Homo sapiens: one gene and its partners. The protein of the gene in region 1 interacts with the protein of each later gene in a biochemical or structural test. Each region holds a gene or a part of one and is shown in the gene's direction. Other genes may lie near its edges.

What was found. The genes of interacting proteins can lie anywhere in the genome.
Region 2: the proteins of DGKK (region 1) and USH1C interact in a test that uses a peptide from one of them, tested with the Homo sapiens proteins (one large-scale study listed by IntAct).
Region 3: the proteins of DGKK (region 1) and GRID2IP interact in a test that uses a peptide from one of them, tested with the Homo sapiens proteins (one large-scale study listed by IntAct).
Region 4: the proteins of DGKK (region 1) and PDLIM7 interact in a test that uses a peptide from one of them, tested with the Homo sapiens proteins (one large-scale study listed by IntAct).

The regions. Positions count from the first base shown.
Region 1 is NC_000023.11:50,467,275-50,472,841, reverse strand, and holds the start of DGKK (diacylglycerol kinase kappa), read left to right. Parts: upstream 1-2,016; 5' UTR 2,017-2,163; coding exon 2,164-2,808; intron 2,809-5,567. UniProt on the Homo sapiens protein: Diacylglycerol kinase that converts diacylglycerol/DAG into phosphatidic acid/phosphatidate/PA and regulates the respective levels of these two bioactive lipids.
Region 2 is NC_000011.10:17,506,417-17,509,916, reverse strand, and holds part of USH1C (harmonin), read left to right. Parts: intron 1-78; coding exon 79-561; intron 562-687; coding exon of another isoform or gene 688-795; exon of another isoform or gene 796-3,500. UniProt on the Homo sapiens protein: Anchoring/scaffolding protein that is a part of the functional network formed by USH1C, USH1G, CDH23 and MYO7A that mediates mechanotransduction in cochlear hair cells. Required for normal development and maintenance of cochlear hair cell bundles.
Region 3 is NC_000007.14:6,509,962-6,513,461, reverse strand, and holds part of GRID2IP (delphilin), read left to right. Parts: intron 1-2,422; coding exon 2,423-2,554; intron 2,555-2,755; coding exon 2,756-2,853; intron 2,854-3,061; coding exon 3,062-3,179; intron 3,180-3,309; exon of another isoform or gene 3,310-3,446; intron 3,447-3,500.
Region 4 is NC_000005.10:177,494,805-177,499,067, reverse strand, and holds the start of PDLIM7 (PDZ and LIM domain protein 7), read left to right. Parts: upstream 1-1,463; 5' UTR 1,464-1,540; intron 1,541-2,544; 5' UTR 2,545-2,555; coding exon 2,556-2,651; intron 2,652-4,263. UniProt on the Homo sapiens protein: May function as a scaffold on which the coordinated assembly of proteins can occur. May play a role as an adapter that, via its PDZ domain, localizes LIM-binding proteins to actin filaments of both skeletal muscle and nonmuscle tissues.

The DNA.
Region 1 (5,567 bases):
GCCAAACCCCAAGAGGCCATCTGTAACCCAAGAGGCCATCTTACTCTGTGACTGCTCAGCCTTCAGCCCTTCTAACTACATGTTGGGTTTAGTAAAAAGCAAAATTTAAATGTGGGATATCTGCCCCTTCTAAGGACAGGGATTCCATTAAGGTGTGAGAGCCAGAAAAGTGATCTCCAGTCCTGGACTTGCTGGTTGGTCAGATCTGGCACTTTAATGCACCAGATCCAATAATGAGATCTGGCACCTGTATATTTCAGTCCTGAACTCTTAGGGTTAAAGGCGGCTTGGCTACTTGAGTGTGGGATAGGGGAAAGGAGAACAAGCCCAAGGAGGGTGAAGAGAGTGGGCTCCTAAGGTGAATTTACTGGAAGGAGGACTGCCACGTGAGGGAATTGATAGGGCTCACTTCTCCTGGTCTTCCCATCCCCAGAGTTTAAGGACGGTCCCTGCACTAGCTTAGTAGCTGCCAAGCAGTGTTAACACATCTCTGGAAAGGTGGGCTTAGGCTGTGAGGCTGCAGCGAGGATCTGGGAAATGCAGACCTCACCAGAGATTCTGGTCTTTGGAGGGATTTAGGTGAAACTGTGCTCTTATGGTATTATTTATTGCTGAGACATAGTATAGGCAACAGAAAGATGTTGCAGATTCTAGAAAATTCTGGCTAGGTCAGTGTCCGTTGGCAAAAGAAGAGGGAATAGTGGGGGATATGGTCTGGGAGTAGATGGCTAGAGAAGGGGCTGCAGAAAGAAGGCTGCTACCCACAACTGCAGCATTATGTGTATGGGAGATAAATTCACTTGTCATATTTCAAATCAGGTTTACAGGTATTTCTCCCCCGTCCGCTCCCCCCACCCAGCTGTGGCTTAACAGGTAGTCTTCTCAAATTTTAATTACAATTGGTAATATATTGGCGTCTAAAGTCTAGGTCTGACTAAGATGATGGTTTGTGTGTATGTGTACGTGACTATAACAGAAAGAGCTTCTAAAGTCTTCCGATGTGGTGGGAAAGGTGCTGCGCTAGGCATCAGTCGTTCTCTTCCCAAGAGAATCTCCCATCTCTAATGTCAGACTGCTTCAGGAGGTGAAAAGGGTGTGGGTGTTGCAGTGAATTTCCCCAGCCCAAGACACACACACACACACACACAGACACACACACACACGCGCGCGCGCGCGCGCGTTAACAAGTTTGGGGGGGGCGGAAAAACAAACTCCTGCTGATGGCTGGGAAATCCAGCTAAAAGCACAAGGCAGGCTCCTATAGCATAGGCGAGCCAGACAGACGCCCAGATAGCCTCAGCTCCCGAGCGCGAAGCCCAGCTGCTGCCGGGGCACTCTCGACTTGCTCTCGGGGAGGCTGCAGGCTGCGGAAAGCCGGGGCGCCAGCCTCCCTCATCACACTCCTTTCCCGAATCACCTCAAACTCTGTACCCAACGGCAAAGCTCAGAAATGCAAAAAACCGAAGAGGGTCAAATTGTACTTCAATCCAAAGGAGGCTGAACACCCGCCCCCCCCGCACCCCCCCCCCCCACCACACACACACCATGCCGCTTAATTTCTTTTCCCGGCTTAGATAAAAAGCATTACTTGCCCATCGAGGCTTGGAGATGGGGGGCAAGAGGTTGGTCCGAGGCTAAGCTCACCTGCTGCTGAGGTGAGAGAGCAGACACAGGATGGAAGCTATTCTGACCAGCAGCTAAGTGGTTGGGGGATTGCAAAGACCCTCAACTTCGCCTCTGGCTTTTTTTTTTCATTCGTGTCACTAAAGGGTTAAACACGGCAAGGCTCCAGCCCGCCCCCCAACCTCCACGCCGCTCCACTCCCCCTCCCCTTTTTGTCTCTCCCCTCCCCTCCCGCGCGTCGCTAGGAGGTCATCAAGCGCTCTGCCCAGTCCGCGTTCGCAAGCCCCTCTGCTTCCCGCCCATCGGACCCGTGGCTGCTTACGAAGAGGTGTGCGCACACTGAGGGGCGTGTTCCAGCATAGGGAGACGCTGAGCGCCCACGGGTTAGACCTCAGAGCCAAGCCAGCCATGGAGTGGGATGGGGGAAAGTTTGGCACCCTGCGAGGGGCTGCCGGACTGGAGTGGGCGGGGCGCCCGAGGGTACTTTAGCCTTCCAGGCTTAGGGACTCAGGCTGCCCAGACCTGAAGCGGTGTGCGGCCATGGACCGCGGAGCTGCCGCAGCCCAGGGCACTGCCCCGCCTCAGGATGGAGAGCAGCCCGCTGAGTCTCCAGAGCCTCCGCCGCCTTGGCCGCCGCCGCCACCACCACCGGCTCCGCCGCCGGCTCCGCCGCTGCTCTCCGAGGCTTCGCCAGAACCCATACCAGAGCCCTGTCCAGAGCTTGCTCCAGGTCCCTGTCCAGAGGCGACCTCAGAATCAGCCACAGAACTGTACACAGAACCGACCCCAGAACCAGCCACAGAGCCGGCCTCAGAACCGGCCCCAGAACCTGCCACAGAGCCGGCCCCAGAACCTGCCACAGAGCCGGCCCCAGAACCGGCCCCAGAACCTGCCACAGAGTCTGCCCCAGAGCCGACTCCAGAACCTGCCCTAGAGTCGGTCCCAGAGCCGGCCCCAGAGCTGACTCCAGAAGTTGCCCCAGAGCTGGCCCCAGAGCCGACCCCAGAACCTGTGACAGAGCTGGCCCCAGAGTTCTGCCCTGAGGCGGCTCCAGAGTTCCGTCCAAGTCCAGCACCATGTCTATTGCAATGTCCGGTGGACACTCGAGAGAGAGGTCTAAAGACCTCGCCATCGCCATCGCCATCGCCATCGCCCAGAACGCCAATGTCGTGGTCCAGAATAAAGGTAAGCAAAAGACCCCCTGAAGCGGGGAAAAGAAGCAAGGCGAAGTCAGATGGCTATGGAGCCCGCGGGACTCCGGGTACCCCTTGCATCCCGCTTGTCTGGCACTGGCTGGCCAAGATGCTGAGAAAGATGCAGGGATGGGGAACCCGGGGGAATGGGAAGGGGTTGGGAGGCGGGAAGCAACATGTGGGAATCGAGAATGGGCTGTTTGGGGCTAGAAACGGGGGTGACAGCAGGGGGTGGGAATCGGAGCAGTTTTCCCCTTGAAGAGAAGCGACAGTGCGGTGAGCGCCAATATCTTGAAAGAGAGGAGGAAGATACCCTCGGGGAGCGCAAGAGACCTGGAGAAGTGTTTGGGGCTGGCCCCGAATACATAGCGGACGGATTGAGTGGGGGCGGTGGGACACACCTCTTAGCCGCGGTCACTGCCGCAGAGGCCCAAGCTGCGGAGCCTTCGCCTGCTTGGCCCCCTCCCTGCCACTGGGGAGGGGGCGCCTCAGCTGGGCGCAACTGGCGGCCCTCCAGGGAGGTGCCCGGCGCCTCTGCCGGCTGCTTCGAGCTGGTACTCCTGGTGAGGACGAGGGGATGGGCGGCGCCCACGCGCACTGCAGGGGAAGGGCAGGGTTCTCCGGGAGGAGGGGGAGAGCATGCGTGTGTCGAAGCCACCATTCCATCTGTCTGCAGGATTTCCCAGCAGGTAGGTGCAAACGCAGTGATACAATGTTGCGCAGCGTCACAAACGGGGCAACTGGCATCCCGCACCAGGGCCAATTGGAATGGTACAGGAGTCCTGGTTTAGAGACACGAAAATAGGAGTTGGGATTGCAGAACGTGTGAAGGGGAACCTTCATCTCTACCAGTCTACCGCGACGCCTTCTAAATCGTTACACTTAGCCGGGAAAAGATGAGTGGAGAATCTTCTGGCACTCGCCCAAGGGGAGTAGGGAGGAAAAAGGTTTTCGTGTTTACCTTGGACCCTGAAACCCCGTCTGCTCTTAAGCGGGAGTATGCCTGTCTTTCCTGCTTTCTCTGCACTCTCCCTACTCTTCCTTTACCCTAAACTTCGTTCCACAAAACTGAAAACCAGGATAATGCACACACACACCTCAATTTAGCTTCCCCTGCAGGAAGACATACACACGCGCGCGCATTCACACACACACACACACACACACAAACGAATAACACAACACACGAACAATACCGGTCCATCCTGCTGCCTAGCAGACCATAAGGACACGGCTCAGGAACCCTTCTGCTGTGGACCGCACACTTATAGAATGTAGAATGCGGGAGGGGAGGGGGCAGATTGGCATCACGAAATGGAAGCATTGGTTGCTTCCTGAGTTCTTAGTAGGGAGGCTTGAGTTTGCAAAATATCTGCAATGACGAATAACTGAAAAAGAAGGCTAAAATGAAAAGTTTCACAGAGAAAAGAAAGTGCAGAGGTTTAAAAATAAATAAAACATGACGGTGGGAGACTCTGATAAGTTTTTAAAAATTCAACACCCTAGCTCTCACCAGGGGATGTATCCCTCCCCTTCCTGAAAATACCCTTTCCTGCAGTGATCTTAAGAAGGGCAAAGTTGGGGTGGCTAGATTTGGGAGCTCACCCTCACCGGGTGATTGATCTTGTCTTTTTGGAAGAGTTTGCATTAAGCTGGTGGGAAAGAGACAAGCAGGAATCACCTGACCTGTGGCCATCTTAAGCGAAATTTTGGGAACATGGCTGTGAAACTGACACGTGGGGACGTAATACCCAGAGAATGCATCTCCCCTTTGGCCTCTGAAAGGCTGACTGGCGACCAGGACCCTTCCCCCAGTGAAAAGCATCCCCTGCTCCCATGCGAAAGCATCTCCTACCTGTTTGACAGGAAAATGTCATTGCCAGACAGATGAGGAAGATTAAGGTAAGGGGAATCAGATTAGTTTCCTCTACGTAGTGCCCACTCAGACGTGCTGGCTAGCTGACCCACAGACATCTGGCAACACTGGCAGGAGACCAGGATCCCAGGGGTTTGACTTTGCCCTTAGTAGAGCCAGACATTTGTTGAATCACTTATCTGTAGAATGGGGTTAAGAACCACGACCATCCGTTAAGAAGGCCATGCAGATTAACTAATCAGTGGCTCTGGAGAATTTTGAAGGATGTAAAGGATCTAGGTACGTGCTCAAATTAAATTGCTTGGAGCCAAACCCTTTTACAACACCCTCAATGTTGCTATGCAATTGCTCTCTGGTGCAGCTGGGAACATCTGATCTTCAGTGATAGGATCATTCTCTCCTGCATCTTCCTCAGACAAATGGCACCTGCAACCAGCTGGCTTGTATCTTAACATTCAAGGCAAACAGGTTGTCATCTTAGCTGGGGTGATGTTGTTTTCAAACACTGCCTCCTCGAGGCAAGCTTGGGGGGAAAAAACTGTGCAACACGCACAGGCGTGCACACACCCCTAACACACACACATACTATACATATGTGCCCAAAATGTCAGGGAACAAAACAAAATACAGGTCTCATCATGCAATGAAATCCTCCATAGCAAGCATGAAACTATCCTGATAATTCAAAGGATGAAATGAGCAAAACCAAGTGTTTGAATATGACTGCAAGTTTCTCCCAGATAATTTTGTTGACTGGTATTGTAGCAAAAAACCAACATCTTTCAGCCTTGTAGTCTGCTCTTTTTTGGAATTTCAGGAAAGTTTCAGAACCTGCAATTGACTGAGAAAAGGGGGCTCATGTTTTCTTTTCAAAT
Region 2 (3,500 bases), on another chromosome or scaffold:
GAGCATAGTGCTCGCTGTATTGTGAAGTGGAGCTCTAAGCAGAGTGACAATTACAGAACTTCCTTGCAACACCCCCAGATGACCACAGGGCCCCCGCCTCCCCCGCCTTCTGTGTCTCCCCTGGCCCCACCCTTGAGACGCTTCGCAGGCGGACTGCACCTGCACACCACTGACCTGGACGACATCCCTTTGGACATGTTCTACTATCCCCCCAAGACTCCCTCTGCCTTGCCTGTGATGCCCCACCCTCCACCCTCCAACCCACCCCACAAGGTCCCGGCGCCCCCTGTCCTTCCCTTATCTGGCCATGTGAGCGCCTCATCCTCTCCATGGGTGCAGCGCACTCCACCCCCCATTCCCATCCCTCCCCCGCCATCCGTTCCCACCCAAGACCTCACTCCCACCCGCCCACTGCCCTCGGCGCTGGAAGAAGCACTGAGCAACCATCCCTTCCGCACTGGGGACACAGGCAATCCAGTGGAGGACTGGGAGGCAAAGAACCACAGTGGGAAGCCCACTAACTCCCCTGTCCCTGAACAGAGCTTCCCACCCACCCCAAAGGTAATGTCCCTGTTCTGCATGCTATGTTTGGAAGTAGGAAGAGTGGGGAGAACTGCTGTTTCCCATGTCCTCCACTGCTCCTGAGAGTGGAGACAGAAAGAAACATCATCTCACCCCATTTTCCAGGAATGCCCCCTCCGTGTGCATGTGTGGACATCCTGCATGTATATGGTGGTTCTCACTGATTTTGAAGTGCTGTATTGTATGGTGAATGGCCTGGGACCTTTGGGGTAAGCAACGGTGTGTCCATTTGATATTCATTGCTCTCTCTTAGCTCTTCTTTGCTAGTGTAGGCTGGTAACTTTCAATGTAGGACTTGGAAGTCTATGTTAATGAATAGCCAGCACTCTGTCACATCCAGTCACTTCCTGATATTATCCCAGAAAGCCTTGAATATGGGAAATGGCTCCTGATTTAACGGGAAAAAAAGGGAGGGGAGGAGGAAGCAGGGGCGTATTTGGCTCTGTAAATGAAGTGATAACACTGTACCATCAAATGCAGTATTAGGACATTCCAGTGCCATTTTCTACAGTACTGGCCAACTGCACTGGCTTGAAGTGTAATACCCAGAAATTTCTGGCCAATTTCCAGCTATAGAAAAAATGAAGATGAGAGAGTTCCTAGAAATAATTTACTATTAAAAGAATAGGAATGTTTTTCTTGGATGTTAGGAAGATGAACAGTGTCTTTCTGAAAAAGACATATTTCTTATTAATTATTCGTAATCCAAAGACTATTTTGAAACATGCAATCTCTGAGGAAGACAGGGAGCTTGGATCCCATGAAGGGAAAAACAAAATATTATTCCACTCCCGTAGCCATGAGGCCAGGCTTGAGTCAGTGCAAAGGCATCTCATGTCAGCTGAGGGTAGCAGGGGTTGCTGAGGGAGGGCATAGTCAATAGCACCTGACCAGTGGTTTTTATTAACCTTCCCTGCATGGATTTGAGTTCCTGCGTGGAGAGCAGGACAAGCATCTCAGAGCACTCAGGAGAGCTTACAAGGAAGGTGGGAGTGAAGAAAGTGCCAGATGCCAGCAAGGCTGAAGCTTCCAGCGGGAGACTCTCAGAGGGACCCTTTCTGGACCTCTGGTTGGGGTCGTGAGCCCTGCAGCTTTGACAGGAAGAAATCTGCCTGTTCTCGGGACATCTTTCCCCAGAGCCCAGCCAGGAGCTGGTTTCTAGAGCTGAGTTAGCCTTGCACAACATTTTTCTCTGTAAGTGGCCTCCATCAAGATGAGCAGTAGCTTTTCCTCAACAAATTTGATTCCACTTTGATTGAGTACCTGCCTGGGGCCTCTCTCTGTGAAGGGGAGAGGGGAGCAGTGCTGAAGAGGATGCAGAGGAGATTGACATGCCTGTGCTTTCCAGGACTTTGCCATCTGAAGGATGAGCTGCTGCCCAGGCAGGCTTCTGCTATAAAATATGCATAAGCCATGCGCTATGGGAGGGATTCATTCTAACTGAAGATTGAAGACACCTCTGTAGAGTAGAGGGCTTACGAGCTGAGCCTTGAGGGATGGCAACACATGGAGGATGGGAGCAAGGGCATTGCAAGTGCAGGGAACATAAAGATGGCAAGTTGGAGTAGCAGGGAGTTGGCCTGCCTGGGTTTGAATCCTGGCTGTGCCACTTACTAGCTAGGTAACTGAACACATGCTACTTCATCTATCTGAGCCTGGGCATCCCTGTCCAAAAATAGGAATGCTAATGGCAGCTACCTATTCGAATCAAATAAGTTAATACATGGACACATTCTAAGTTAAGAATGGCAAGAGTGGCAGGCACATCGTGGATGTTCAGTAGACATTAACTATGGTTATTGATAGTCCAGAGTAAAAGAAAATTTGGGTGAAGCTGCAAACCTGGGATCTTAGCAATCTCAGTGTCAGCAAAACTTTGAGTCAGGATCAAGATTCAAGACAGAGTCCAGACTTCTCAGATTCTTCAAGGCATCACCAAGTTCCCACTGTTAGTTCCTGATCAGAGCCCAGGGAAGGTTAAAAGCCCCCCAACACAAGGAGCCTCTGAAGAACTGGACTATAAATGTCACAAGCGACATCAAAGCCAGGGTTGTCCCAGCCTCAAAAGCCAGGGGGCTGTTGCTTGGTTGGCTTCATTTGGCCCACCTCTCACCCTTGTACCACCCACCCTCCTCCTCCCTGCATGCCCCTGGCAAGCTGTCATCAGTGCTGCAGCAGGAAGTGTGAGTGACCACACGCCCACACAGTCAGCCCAGCCACCAGCAGGCCCCAAGTCATGGAAACAAACACCTGTGTTGGCTTGACACTTGTGCCTGCCACACCAGCACCGGCCATAGGGGGGTTTTCAGGGCCAGATCTATCCACAGGCACTGTCCCATGTTCTCACCATACTATTTAGTCATTCATTTATTCATTCAACACATGCTTATTGAGCACCTACTATATGCCAAGGCACTATGCAGGGCACTGGGAATCCCTGCTGGATAGACAGCTGCAGTCTCCCTTCTCAAGACAGTCTGGTGGGGAACAAAGAAAAGTAGGCACCCGCCACACCATCAGCGTGGAGACGGAGGAAGCACAGGTGCTATAATAAGGAAGAGGGCTGGAGTAGAGGAAAAGCTCAAGGGAGGCTTCCAGAAGGCAGTGACGCCCAACTTAAGACCTAGGAGGCAAAGCGGAAGAAGGAAGAGCACGTGCAAAGGCCTCAAGGCAAGAAAGCCTGGCATTTTTTGAGGCTAAAGCTAGGCAGTGTGAGGAGCGTGGCGAGGAGTGAGAGATAAGGCTGAAAAGGAAGCTAGAGAAGCTCATGAAAGGCCTTGGGAGTCAAGCCAATGAGCTCAGTAGTCAATGCGGACACTGGGGAGGGTTTGGGGGCAGGGCTGTGAACTGATTTGATACATCTTGCCCAAAAAGATCAAGTGGGTTAGAGCCAAGCAGACAGGTTGCGTCAGCTCCCC
Region 3 (3,500 bases), on another chromosome or scaffold:
CATCACTTGAGCTCAGGAGCTCAAGATTAGCCTGGGCAACATAGCAAGAGCCTGTCTCTACCAAAAAAAAAAAAAGTTTTAATTTAGCCAGGTGTGATGCACACCTGTAGTCCCGGCTACTTAGGAGGCTGAGGTGGGAAGATGGCTTGAGTGCAGGAGATCAAGGCTGCAGTGAGCTATGATCAAGCTACTGCCTCCAGAAAAAAAAAAAGGAAAGAAAAAAAGAAAAAAGAAAGAAACTCACGTGGTTGCCAGACATGCCAACACCACCACCAGGATCATGAGCACACGACCACATCCCACCTGGCTGGTGGGCTCCCAGTGTACTCTTTCTTGCACACACACAGGCCTGCAGTGCCATGTGTGGCTGCCACCTGTCTGTTCAGCGTGCCCTCCGAATGCCCACAAACCCCTGCACTCAGCATGCAGGTCATGTGGATGGAAGGTGTGCCGAAGCCTGTGTTCTACCCTGTTCTAGGCATCCTGCACCTGCTATGAAAGCCGCTGCAGGTGCAGTGGTTCACTCTTGTAATCCCAGCACTTTGGTAGGCTGAGGTGGGTGGATCACTTGAGGTCAGGAGTTCCAAGTCCAGCTTGGGCAACACAACAAGACCCCCATATATTCAAAATATTTAAAAATCAGCCAGGGGTGGCCGTGCGCGGTGACTCACGTCTGTAATCCCAGCACTTTGTGGAGCTGAGGCAGGCCAATCACGTGAGGTCAGGAGTTCGAGACAAGCCTGGCCAACATGGGGAAACCTCATCTGTACTAAAAATACAAAAATAAGCCAGGTGTGGTGGTACGCAGTTGTAATTCCAACTACTCGGGAGGCTGAGGCAGGAGAATTGCTTGAACCTGGGAGACGGAGGTTGCAGTGAGCTGAGATCGCACCACTACACTCCAACCTGGGCAACACGGTGAGACTCCATCTCAAAGAAAAAAAAAATAAAAAATTAGCCAGGCGTGGTGGTATGCACCTGTAGTCCCAGCTACTTGGGAGGATGAGGTGGGAGGAGCACTTGAGCTCAGGAGTTGGAGACCAGCCTGGGCAACATAGCAAAAAAATTTGAAATTAGCTGGGTGTGGTGGCACACACCTGTAATCCCAGCTGCAGGGGAGGCTCAGGCAGGAGGATCTGTTGAGCCTGGGATTCAAGGCTGCACTGAGCCTTGATTGCACTCCAGCCTGGGGGACAGAGTGAGACCTGTCACAAAAAAAAAAAAAAAAAAGAAGAAAAGAAAAAAAGGCAGGTGTGGTGGCTCACATCTGTAATCCCAGCACTTTCAGAGGCTGAGGCAGGTGGATCACCTGAGGTTAGGAGTTGAAGACCAGCCTGTCCAATATGGTGAAACCCCATCTCTGCTTAAAAAAAAAAAATACAAAAATTTAGCCAGGCATGGTGGTGCATGCCTGTGGTCCCAGCTACTTGGGAAGCTGAGGCTCGAGAATCATTTGAACCTGGGAGGTGGAGGTTGCAGTGAGCTGAGATTGTGCCACTGCACTCCAACCTGGATGAGAAAGCCAGACTCTGAATAAATAAAGAGAGAAAGAGAGAAAGAGACAGAGAGAGAGAAAAGAGAGAAAGAGAGAAAGTGAGAGAAGGAAGAGAAGGAAGGAAAGGAAAGGAAGGAAAGGGAAGGGGCCGCTGCAGAGTTGCTGGTCCTTGTGTGCCCATGAGCTGCAGTCCCAGGGACCCACAATTTGCTAGGGTTTTAGCGAGAAGCTCAGGATCCATGCTGGACCACACATGCCTTACATATCTGCGTAGGCTCAAAAAACTTCTATTTTGGCCGGGAGCAGTGGCTCACACCTGTAATCCCAGCACTTTGGGAGGCCGAGGCAGGCGGATCACCTGAGGTCAGGAACTTGAGACCAGCCTAGCCCACATGTTGAAACCATATCTCTACTAAAAATACAAAAATTAGCCAGGCATGGTGACGGACACCTGTAATCCCAGCTACTTGGGAGGCTGAGGCAGGAGAATCGCTTGAACCTGGGAGGTGGAGGTTGCAGTGAGCTGAGATTGCACCACTGCACTCCCACCTGGGCAACAAGAGCAAAACTCAGTCTCAAAAAAAAAACACTTCTATTTTGCCCATAATCCTCTCTGGGCAGCAGTGACTTGGCCTGGGGCAAGCACAGGGCGTTGAGACTCTGGAAGCTGTTGTCATGAGATCTCTGCTAGGCCCCTGAGTTCAGGCTAGCTGCATTCTGGTGCTGCATTCTGGTGCTGCTCCTGGCACCTGGTTTCTTGCCCTGGGGCTTCCCCTCAAGAGCTGTTCTGGAGGCAAGCAGGGCAGGCCCCGTAGCTTGGGGTCTGCATATTGGTGCAGATGACATCTGCCCTCCCCTCCCTGTTTTGGAGGTCCCTTGTCTGGCTGAGAGGGCAAGAGGGCCCCATGTTCCCTGCATGTCCCACAGCAGAGCCGGAGCCTGAGCTGGACCTGGAGTCCGAGCCCACGCCTGAGCCCCAGCCGCGGAGCTCCCTGCGGGCTTCCTCCATGTGCCGCCGCAGCCTCCGGTCCCAGGGCCTGGAGGCCGGCCTCAGCTGCGGTAAGGCTGGTGTCAGGGGGAGGGTATGAATGGAGCTCAGTTTTCCCACCTGCAAAATGGGCTTGGTGAGGTGGGGAATCCCAGGGAATGGGGCTAAGCAGGGCTCAGGATTGGCCCTCCTGGGTCTGCGGGGCATGTTGGTTCTGGGCCGGGGCCTGAGCCGTAGAGCTCAGATACGGTAATGACATTATTCCCCGGTAGGTCCCAGCGAGTGCCCTGAGATGCCTCTTCCCCTGATCCCAGGCGAGCGCCAGGCAGGCGACGGCACGTCCCTCCCTGAGACCCCCAACCCCAAGATGGTGAGACCTTCTCTGCCCTCCACGTGGGGTCAGTAGGGGGCAGGGAATGGACGGTCCATAGGACTGGGCCCAGGAGACCCAGGCCAAGGCGTCCCTGTGCTGCTTCAGGCTGGGGCATATCCCTGCCTCCCGGCCCACCCAGGCCTGGACCACATTAGGGCTACGAGGGGAAGCAGAATGGGCTGGACTCTCCCCCGTCTCCCTCCAGATGTCAGCCGTCTATGCAGAGCTTGAGTCTCGACTGAACAGCAGCTTCAAAGGGAAGATGGGGACCGTGTCCAAATCCCGGGCTTCCCCTCCAGGCCCCAGCCCAGCAGTCACCACAGGTAGGGCTCCAGCCTCTGTCATCTACTGTCTGGGTGTTTCCCTCCACCCCAGGCTCAGCCCTGGAGCTGCTTCTCTGCTCCATCAGGGTCAGGGTTGTCCCAGTCCCTCCCATGGCCCTGTGACCCTCACCTCAGCTGTGGATCAAGAAAGTAGCCTGGGTACCGTGGGTCGTGCCTGTAATCCCAGCACTTTGGGAGGCCGAGGCAGGAGGATCAATGGAGCCCAGGAGTTTGAGACCAGCCTGGCAACATAGTGAGGCCCCATCTCTAACAAAAAAAATACAAAATTAGCTGGGCATGGTTGCATATGCCTGTAGTCCC
Region 4 (4,263 bases), on another chromosome or scaffold:
TTCTGCTGTGCAGCCCAGTTCCTAACAGGCCACAAACGGGGAGTTGGGGACCCCTGATCTAGTAAACATCTAGGCAGGGTTTTGGATAATGGAGTTAGAGTTCCTGGGGAGAGGTCAGGCTGGCCATGAAACATGGGATGCCTTTGCATATAGGTGGTGTTGAAAGCCACAGGACAGTACGGGGTCTCAGGGGGTGAGCATAAAGAGAGGCGACATCAGATGGCCAAGGCCAGAGGCAGAGGAGGATGGGAAGGAGGGGCCAGTGGGGCAGGGGGAAGCTGTGAAGCCAGGGAAAAAGGGTGTTTCGCGGAAAAGGATCAACCTGGACCAGTGCTGCCCCTAGGCAGGGCAGGATGAAACTTAACCACCACGGATTCCATGGCCCCATGGCCTCCAGGCCACAGGGGACCTTGAGAAGAGAGATCTCAGGGGACGGGTGCGGACAAGAGCCCGCCTGGCATGGCTTCAAGAGATAACTGAAGGAAAGCAAGTGGAGACGCGATAAACAGACAACTCCCTGGAGGAATTTTACTCTCGAGAGGAGAATTAAAGGGTAGTAGCTGGAGAGGGATGTGGGGTCAAGAGAAGGTCTTTAACGACGAGAACTCTCACGGCGGTTTGTGCAGAACAGGGTGGGTGTGATGACTGTGGATGGAGAGGGGAGAACTGCAGCGACTCTGTCCTAGGAGGAGGTGATGGGCCGGGACCACCAAGCGAGTGGAGGGTGGACGCCCCTTCCCTCACCCCGACACCCGCATGTGCTCAGTGTCCGTGCCGCCGGCCCTAGTGCCTGGGCTGAACGCGGGGCCGGGACTCTGAGGACGCCTCCCAGGCGGCGCAGTCCGCTCTGGCCAAGGTGGAGCGGGACGCGGCGCTTCCGACGGTGCGCGGGTCGGCTCGGGGTTGCAGGGACATCCGGCGTCCGCTCCTGCCCTGTTTTCCTGCCTTCGGCAGAGCGTTGCGCAACTCTAGCTTTAAACGCCCCTGTCCCCCTCAACTTGTCTCCCCCAGCCCCTCTGATTTACAGATTCTGCAGTCCCCGAGGGTTGCGCCTACGATACCGACACTCGCGGCAGCCCTGCGAGGCGAGTATGATCGTCCCATTTTTCGGAGTAGCAAACTAAGGTTCAGAGACTACTATGTCCCAGGTCGGTCTGGTTTGAAGGTCCGCTTTCCTCTCCCTCCGCCAGCGGGCGGTGCGAGGGACTGGGCGAGGCAGCGCTTCCCTAAGGAGGCGACCCGCAGCCCCGGCCCCCTCCCGACTCCGCCCCGTTGCAGGGCCCGGGTCGGCGAGGCCTCTCAGCTCTAAGCCCGACGGGACTTGGTGATTGGGCAGGACGGAAGAGCTGGGTGGGGCTTTCCACCAGCGGAGAAAGTCTAGTGGGCGTGGTCGCGACGAGGGCGTGGCCTGGTGCCCCGCCCCCGTCCGCGCGCTCAAAGTGGAGGGTGGCTGTGGGGGCGGGGTCAGAACACTGGCGGCCGATCCCAACGAGGCTCCCTGGAGCCCGACGCAGAGCAGCGCCCTGGCCGGGCCAAGCAGGTATCGACGACCGCGCGGGGCGTCTTGGGCTGCACCAGGCGGGCGCCCGGGGCCTGCTGAGGACCACAAAGGGCACTGGGGGTCGTGGTCCAGGCTGTGCTTCCTCCCGCTGGCCCTGGCCCCTGCCTCCGCCCCCGCCCCCGCCTTCCTGCCGCTAAGCCGGCTGCGGCGGGGCCGATTGGCGCCTGCGCCGCTTCCTGCGGCCGGGGCCAGTCTAATGCATGGGGCCCGGGCGGGGGACTAAGGGGAAACTGAGTCACGTCGGTGTGGGAGCAGTTCTGTGTGGGAGGCACCACCCCCCACTGGGCTCGGGGAAGGATCCCCCTCCAAGCTATGCTTGAGGGTCCCAGCCCCCATCTGTCTCCACAGGGGCCGCACCCCACTCCCGCCTTCCCCTTCTTCAGCACCCAGGGGTCCCGCCCTGGCTCCCAGCAGCCTCGACTGGTCCCGGAATGGCTAGGAGGATCCGCTGCAGCCGCCTCCCTCCCCTCCCCTCCCCTCCCCTCCCCTCCCCCCCCCCTCGCGTCCCAAGCCCCCGTGTGCTCCCTCCGCTGGCTCTCCGCACAGTGTCAGCTTACACGCCTTATATAGTCCGAGCAGGCTCCAGCCGCGGCCTGCCTGCCGGGACCTGGGGGCGGGGGAGAGGAGAGCCGGCCCCTGACTCACCCGGCCGCCCGAGGCTCCAGGCTGGCTTGGGGGGAGGCCGCGCCAGTTTAGTCCCTCGGCCCACCCCTGGTTGCAAAGAACCTCAAGCCTGGATTCAGGCACCCCTCACCGTTCCAGTCCCAAGGGGAGGGGGGCTGCTCCTGTCTTTCCAAAGTGAGGTCCGCCAGCCAGCAGCCCAGGCCAGCCTGACAAAATACCTGCCTCCTATGGCTTGGGCGTGCTCAGGGGCTGCCCGTGCCTGCCTGGCCCCTGTCCAAGGCTGGTATCCTGAGCTGGCCCGGCCTGCCTGCCTGCCCGCCCACCATGCTGGCCACTCACCTTCTCTTCTCTCCTCTCAGGAGCCGGCATCATGGATTCCTTCAAAGTAGTGCTGGAGGGGCCAGCACCTTGGGGCTTCCGGCTGCAAGGGGGCAAGGACTTCAATGTGCCCCTCTCCATTTCCCGGGTGAGCCTAGGTTTGGGGAGGGGGCTCCCCCAGCGGTCTTTCGGTGCTTAGGTCTCCAGAGGGTGATGGGGGGAGTCCTAACAGGAGCTGGTCAGGGGCCAGCAGGCCAGGAGATGTCTAGGTCCGGAGATGTAGTGGTACCTGCCTGCCACAAGGACTCCCAATGAGGTGGATACTGGGAGGGAGCACCCAGGCTTCTCCAGCCCTGCACTGTACCCGATGCTGTTCTCCCAAGCTCCTGTGGCCACCTCTGAGGGCTGGAGGGAGGCTCATTGTGCAGGATGGGAGCCTAACATTTCAGGAGGTATCTAAACTTGAGGTGGCAATGCTTGGAGCCAGGCCCCAGGCAGGACACTGTGACTATAGGATTTCACTTCAGCCTCACTGCCGCCCAGGGAATAGCAATCCTCATCCCGTTTTTCCAGATGAGAGAAGAACTCATGGAGAGGTGGCGGGGCTCGCTCATCGAGTCCATGGTGAAGCAGGGATTGGAATTGAGGCACAGCATGGCGTACATTTTTTGTGGGTAGAAGGGGTCTCTCCCCAGCCTATGTAAGGACCCACATCCACTGTTCCCATTCAGGATGTGGTGGCCTTTGACCCCAAGCAGAAGTGTAGGACAGGGCTCCATTCTAGGGGCTTAACTTCAGCTTCCAAGAGCCTGCCCTGGTGTGGGTGGAGCTGGAGGCTGGCTCCTCCCTGTAGCAGGGGGATTGCCTTATAAGCCCAAGAATGCAGCCCCACGCTGGGATGGCCAACAGTGGCTGCGGTCTGCAGAGCTGAAAAGGGCTGGCCTAGGCCTGGCCCCCTGAACCCCACTGGTGGGCCTCTCAGCTGGTCACCAGGCTGCAGCTCCAGCTATATGGTCCAGTTGTGAGACACAACAAATTGCCTGCCCAGAGTGGGTGAGGCCAGCCTGTCGGCTGGCATCTCTGACTGGCCTGGGGGTCAGGAGGGGGTGGGGACTTCCTGCCCCTATATCCGCCTGCCCCAAGAGACCCACCCAGGCGCCGGGTGGGCAGGCAGCTGTTGTCAGGAAGCCCAAGGCAAGCCCAGCCTGGAGGGGCCCAGAGGGTCGTGGCCTGAGGAGGGGCTCAAGCTGGAGTCTGTCTGTAGGAGCTGGGCGTGGGGGTTAGGGTGGGCAGGCCAGCAGTGCTCTTCTCAGGGGTCCTTTGATGGCATTCTCCTGGAACCTGCCCCGCCAGCAGGGTAGTGAGGCAGTGGTTGCCCTATGACACACGTCCCACTACATAGCCCTCACACAGCCCTGAAACCTACCTGACGTCCTGCTCCCTGGGAAAGTGCTGGCCCAGTGTGTCTGGGGAGCCTGAACCTCAGTTTCTTCCCTGATGGAGATGACTTTCAGATATGGCCTGTTGGGGGCACTCCGGGCTCCAGCTCCCTGGTCAGCATCCCTGGCATGTGGGCGGGGCCACTAGCTGATCCCAGCCCTGGAGTTGGACCTGGGCCCACATGGGTGGGTGAGGTGGGCTTTTCTGAGTTAGGCCAGCCCCCTCCCCCTCCCCTGACCCCAGAATGGAGGGAGGTGGGAGGGGCAAGGGCTGGCTGTGGGCCCAGGCCTGGGAGATGAGGTAACGTCTGGGACTGGGGG